2 linked regions of the Homo sapiens genome follow. The protein of the gene in region 1 interacts with the protein of each later gene in a biochemical or structural test. Each region holds a gene or a part of one and is shown on either strand. Other genes may lie near its edges.

Region 1 (3,500 bases):
AACAGGAGTGAAGGAACAACTGCATGAACCAGAACCTCAAGTTCTGAAACCATAACTTAGTACTACCAAAGTAGACTCAGCATCACCAGGACATATACAAGTTGTGTGTGTGTGTGTGTGTGTGTGTGTGTGTGTGTGTGTGTCTGTGAGTGAGTCTGTCTCACGAGTGCATTTTTAAACTTTGCAGACAGATTCTTACCCTGTGCTGAAAAGCTGATTGCTTACAGCCCTGAACTTAACAGTCTCTCACTTTAATAACCTCATTGTAAAGAGAGCCTCTTTGCCCCATCTCTAAATATAAATATGAGGGAAAGAGTCTTACTGATTTGGCTTTGGTCCTATGACTATCCCTAAACCAGATAAAATGGGGGAGGAATTTTCTAGGGGAAAGAGGTACTTTTATCAGAACAAAGGGAGTAGAATGTTGTAGGGTGAACAAAAAAGTAATAGCTGTCATAGTTTCTTATTGATGGACTCTTTACATATTCACTGTTATAAATACTATTGCATTGATATTTATAGAATAAATTCCTAGAAGTGGAATTGCTGGATCAATGCATTTTTAATGGCAGATATTGTAGGCTTGACCATCAAAAAGGTTGTATCAATGTACATTCCCACCAATTATTAATCTTTTTATGTTTTTCTAGTCTAATAGATGAGAAGTATCTAATTTTTAAATTTGTACTTTATTTTTTTTTAAAGTAACATATTTAAAAATATTTATTGTATTTTTCTGTGAACTGCTTTCATTATCCTTTTTCAAATTTTCTTTTGGGTTATTGTCCTTTTTCTCATTTTTCATTTTCCTTTTTTCCTCATTGATTTTTTTTTTTTTTTGAGATAGAGTTTCACTCTTGTCACCCAGGCTGGAGTGCAGTGGCGCTTTCTCGGCTCACTGCAACCTCTATCTCCCAGGTTCAAGCAATTCTCCTGCCTTAGCCTCCTGAGTAGCTGGGATTACAGGCACCCGCCACTATGCCCATCTAATTTTTGTATTTTTAGTAGAGACGGGGTTTCACCATGTTGGTGAGGCTGGTCTTGACCTCAGGCGATCCATCCCCCTTCAGCCTCCCAAAGTGCTGGGATTACCATGCCTGGCCATCCTCATTGATTTTTAAAAGCCGTTTGCTCATTAAATAAATTAACTATTTGCTTTAATGAAAAATTATTTAATAAGAAATTGTGGGAAAATATACATAACAGAAAAGTGTACCATTTTAAGCATTTTAAGAGTATCACTCAGTGGCATTAAGTACATTCACAATATTATGGAACCATCAACACTGTTCATTTTGGAACTTTTTTATCATTCCATACTGAAATTGGTATCTGTTAAACACTAACTTCATTCTCCCTCCTTCCCAGCCTCTGGCAACCACCATTCTACTTTTCTGTCTCTATGAATTTGACTACTTTAGGTATCTCACATGATGCAGTAAGTGTCCTTTTATATATGGCTTATTTCACTTAGTATAATGTCTTCAAGGTTTAGCCCTTTGTTTTTATACGTAGTTTGGCAGCTTGTAGAACCTCTCTTTCAGTAGTTGATGGTGACATTTTAAGCTCCTTGCCTACTTGCCTTCTTTCTTTTTCTTTTCTTTTTTAAAAACTTATTTATTCATCATTTTATCTACCTCTAGTATCTCGGAAAAGGAAAGCCAAGAACTGGGAAGATGAAGACTTTTATGATAGTGATGATGACACATTTCTTGATAGGACTGGCCTGATTGAGAAGAAGCGTCTGAACAGAATGAAGAAGGCTGGCAAGATTGATGAGAAGCCAGAGACCTTTGAATCATTGGCAAGTTTTATTTATGGAAGTAGCTGTGGTATTTAATAGTTTAATTTTTAATAACATAATGTATTATTTAAATATGTTTTATGATAATTTTTAAAGTAGTAGCATTGAAATCTGATACTGAAGTATAACTTTTGTGGTCTGTTAATTTAATGGTAACAGACAACTAGTCTTATCCAAGTTGTTTGAAAAAAATATGGCTTGCTGCTAGATCCTTTCCTTCAGGATATTGATCCATTAATTAACATTCTTTGGATATGATATTACCTCTCTCAAAAGGAAAGGAAAAAGTTCCAAGTTAGGGCGTTCTGAGGTGAAATTGACTTTAGCCTTCTGGCAGTCAAGAGAAGTCAAAGGAATTTTGAAGAATGTAGTATGGTAATATGTAGTCTGAAACAGTATGTTCTTCAGGAAATTATCACAAGGTGACGTGTTAATGGGTAGGTAACAGACAATAATAGGCAGGTAATAGGCTACCTATTAGACTAGAAAAAAACATAAGATTAATAATGCAGAGCTTGACCAGAATATGGAGAAGTAGACTCTCAATTGGTGGGAATGTACAATACAACCTTTTAAGTGATCAATCCTACGACATCTGTCAGTATTAAAAATGCATTGATTCAGCAATTGCACTTCAAGGAATTTGTTACAGGTATTAATTTATAGTAGGATTCAGAGCTTAAAACATTACCCAACATCTATCCTTTTGATTTATGTGAAAACAAATGCCTTGAGCTCTTTCTTCTGAGTAAAATGAAGTCCGAGTTATTCATTCTGTTTAATTCTGTGTTTTTTAATTCAGAAATAAATTAAATTTGGATTTAACACATAAAAAGTGTTAACTCCTGGCTGGGCATGGTGGCTCATGCCTGTAATCCCAGCACATTGGGAGGCTGAGGCCGGTGGATCACCTGAGGTCAGGAGTTCGAGACCCACCTGACCAATGTGGTGAAACCCCACCTCTACTAAAAAAAAAAAAATACAAAAATTAGACAGGCGTGGTGGTGTGTGCCTGTAGTCCTAGCTACTCTGGAGGCTGAGACAGGAGAATTGCTTGAATGCAGGAAGCAGAGGTTGCAGTGAGTCGAGATCACGCCATTGCACTGCAGCCTGGGTGACAGTGCGAGACTCCATCTCAAAAAAAAAAAAAAAAAACTATTAACTCTGGCCAGGTGTGGTGGCTCACACCTGTAATCCTAGCACTTTGAGAGGCTGAGGCAGGCTGATCATGAGGTCAGGAGATTGAGACCATCCTGGCCAACATGGTGAAACCCTGTCTCTACTAAAAATACAAAAAGTAGCTGGGTGTGGTGGTGCACACCTGTAGTCCCAGCTACTTGGGAGGCTGAGGCAGGAGAATCGCTTGAACCCGGGAGTCGGAGGTGGCAGAGAGCCGAGATTGCACCACTGCACTCTACCCTGGCAACAGAATGAGGCTCTATCTCAAAACAAAAAAAAAAGTGTTAACTCCATAAGTAGCAGTTTAACTGGACTTTTGAATTAATCTTCTTAAAACTTCTAGTAAGAATAATTAAAACAGGAGGATGAAAAACAGTTTGAAAGAAGAAAAACTTTGTAACCCTGTTGATTTGGGTGTTACAGGTTGCAAAATTAAATGATGCTGAAAGGGAACTTTCTGAAATTTCTGAGAGATTGAAAGCCTCAAGCCAAGGTAAGTTTTTCATCAAATATTTAT
Region 2 (3,500 bases), on another chromosome or scaffold:
TGGTTTGGGTTTTATGTATGTGTGTTTTTCGTTTTGTTTTGTTTGTATTAAGAACCAAAGAGGCCGCTTTTAAGCTGAGATGAAATGCCTGTTACTTCAAATCCTGAAAAGCAGCAGCCACAGATCTTCTTGGGTCAGATCTCATGATCTGGGTGATGTCAGCACCATGATTTCTCCAGCATAGTATTCATATCCATGCAGCAAACTCGACTCTTTCTTCCTAGCTGGCCACATGGAATTTTTTAATGAAAAAATTATGTATGAATCTAAGCCTGTTTTTAGGGAGCTTGGAAAGTGCGCCTTTGGGAATTGTGACCTGTCATCTCCTCTTGGGAAACTTGCTGTCCGGCTGCATTCCAGGCAGTGTGACAGGCATCCATCTCACCCCTCACATGGCAGCTTCCCTGCCTTTGGTGTGCTCCCTGCAAAGCGAGGGTTCCCAGTGGCATTCTTACTCATTAGCTGCTGCAGTAGAAGTAGAGGGCACTCGGCTCAGTGCCCCGTTTCTCCAAACTGGGAAACTCATTACATAGAACATCCCTAATCTATCCTTGCTGGAAAATATCACCGAACACCCAAGGGAAACTGTTATCTAATGCTCTTGTATTCAGAGTACTATTTAACTATCATGTGCATAGTTTAATTTATCACTGACCCTAAGACATTGTGAATCTTGAAGTGCTTCTTAAATATTAAAATAGGATTACAGAATAACTGTTAAAAGTAATTGCACAATTACTTTTGCACCAACCGAATATTAACCTGAATATCCCCTGTCCTGAACATATCAAACAACGGAAATTTTATTGTTTCTCTTTTAATTTCTTTGAAATTGTACATATTGGTCCCTTTCTTTCAGATACACCTGGGTGAGGATGGATAAGGGGATATTATATGTTTTCTTTTTCTTCTGTCTCTTTTTTTTAATACCCCGCAAGTTCTTAAAGCTCAAGGGGATATTACAGAACCAGCAAGGTATGAAACAGAGGAAACAAAAATTCAATATACTTTGCATTGGCGTAAACTTTCCAGAGCCAAGAGAGACATGAACCTATTGTTTTGCCATAGCCAAGTGCCGTCGAATAGGTGCGATAGAGGTAGGAGTTAAAATATCCATTTGCGCTAGAAACCTTCCTGGCACCAAGCCAGCTTTATCAGTGTTTTCCCATGGGCTTCTTGTACTGCCGCAGAAAGACCACGTTTATACCAACCTGAAAAAAATGTTATCAGCCTCTCTCTCGACAGCGTATTGAACCTGAACGAACAAGCAGCCTAAAGTCATGGGTAAGCGGCGGTACATGGCGCCAGACATCCAAATGCCGAGGAAGCCTCTTTAGGCATTGAACCACTTTTGACCTAGCTATCAGAATCATTTTATTTTGAAAGAGGTTAAAAAAAAAGTCTCATGAAATGGATGACAGCTTTGCAATATAATTCTCAACTCTAAATGAAGGAATGTTCTCTAAGTAGGGAAGTTTCATATTCCTGGCAAGACGTTTCTTGGAAAATTACCATATTTTAGTGCAGCTGCAAGGGGTAAATGATCTCTTGTGTGACTTTATAGAAAAGCACACGTAGATGTGAAGCCTGTGCTCGAGCTGCCCAGTGTTCCCCCACCTTCACCGCCTTAAGCACCCACAGTTTACATCCATGAACACATGGACAAAAACAAACTCATGTGGAGGCCGGGCCAGGCTCCGGGGAAGGTCCCATTCATGGGTGGTTGACAGTGGATTGGAAGCGGGAGATTTGGGGGGATCGGTTAGGATAGCTGGCAAAGAATCTGTGCTTAAGTCAACACAGCTTGGGCCTGAGCCTGAGACTTGGGGTCTCAGCAGGCACTAGACATTGGAAGTCCGGGGCTATTGCACTGGCTTTCAACTCCAGCCGAGGTAACTTAAGCAGGTCACCATAGAGGTCAGGCTTTTTTTTTTCTTTTTTGACAAAGGGTCTCACTCTGTCACCCAGGCTGGAGTGCAGTGGTGCGATCTCAGCTCATTGCAAACTCCACCTCCAGGGTTCAAGTGATTCTTCTGCCTCAGCCTCCTAAGTAGCTAGGACTACAGGCGCACACAACCACACCTAGCTAATTTTTTGTATTTTTTGGTAGAGACGGGGTTTCATCATGTTGGCTGGGCTGGTCTCGAACTCCTGACCTCAAGTGATCCATCTGCCTCAGCCTCCGAAAATGCTGGGATTACAGGCATGAGCCACCGTGCCCAGCCAAGGTCAGGCTTTCTTAATCAGACCTGTTAAGTTAGAATTTCTCAGGGAAGGGACCAGGCATGAGTCACTAAAAAACAGAAGAAGCCACCCAGATGAGTCTAACGTGTGTACACGACTTTCTGATGGTTCAGTTCCAGTCCATGCCTCTAAGGGTGGGTTCCCTGGCCAGTGGGGCCTTAGGACTGCTCTGTGGTCAATACCTGCTCTGCAGCACAAAGGCAAAACTGTCCATGCTGTCTGCTCTCAGCCTCAGCACAGTCCCTCCCACTCTCAGGTAAGGTGAACATATCACTCACTGTTCAAATCAGGAGAGGATTGAGAGTGATGGGACGGCTGTCAGTCATGTTGGGATGATGGGTGCCCTAGAGAAAGCTCCCAGGTAGACCAGAATAATTACCCTAGGTGATTGCTGGCTTTTGTGGGGCTTAGGTGGCTGATCTGGATCTCATGATGGTTTTTAAAAAGACATTCCAAGCTCTTCTTTGGCTGGTTTAGCCCTCTCCTTTATTGGTCAAATCAGAGACTTGTCATTTAACTGCCTGTCTTTGACTAATGGTGCTGCAATGCTTTCTTTATAAAGAAGAAACTGTAGATGACTGTTACCTGATTGGCCTTTTTTAAATGAATTCCAAGCTTTTCTATTTCTTATTTTAAACAATTTGTAGACATTTTATTCCCCCATGGGGAGAGACAGAGAATAAGAAGTAGGTAGTGATATTTTTTTTTTTGTTTTAACAACATGATTTACTCTTATAACTTGTCTCAGTGGATTGGTGGTTGAGGTCTCCACCAGCGTTTCATTGGGAAGAGGTTTCAGGAACAGGATGAAATGCCTCCCCTTCTGCACCTCACCCTCCAGGGAGAAACAGGAGCTGAGTGGCTTCTTCTCCCCCTTGCTGATTATCAGATAGAAATGTGAGTCATTTCCATGCTTTGAATATCTTGAGATGATTTTCAAGGATATCTGCATTTAAGATGAGGTGAACATTCACCTAGTAGCAAATTTGCCTGGGTCGCTCTGAAAAATTCTGGCCTCCTCAAGGATACAGATTGTGACAGATACATTTTTAAAAGCTTTATTGATGTATAATTTCCATACCAGAAAATTCACCTGTGCAATGATTACTAACGTATTTGCAGAGTTGTATTTATACAACCATCACCACAATCTAATTTTAGAACGTTCCTTCACCCCAAAAAGAAATCTCCTGCCTATTTGCAGTTAACTTGTGTCTTATCCAACACCTAGTTCATGCAGTCAGTAAGTTTTTTTT

The links.
Region 2: the proteins of SLC4A1AP (region 1) and MFHAS1 form a complex in vitro, tested with the Homo sapiens proteins (one large-scale study listed by BioGRID and IntAct).

What each region holds. Positions count from the first base shown.
Region 1 is NC_000002.12:27,673,889-27,677,388, forward strand, and holds part of SLC4A1AP (kanadaptin), read left to right. Parts: intron 1-1,643; coding exon 1,644-1,804; intron 1,805-3,406; coding exon 3,407-3,476; intron 3,477-3,500.
Region 2 is NC_000008.11:8,792,631-8,796,130, reverse strand, and holds part of MFHAS1 (malignant fibrous histiocytoma-amplified sequence 1), read left to right. Parts: intron 1-3,500. UniProt on the Homo sapiens protein: Probable GTP-binding protein. Functions in innate immunity and more specifically the inflammatory response as a regulator of the Toll-like receptor TLR2 and TLR4 signaling pathways.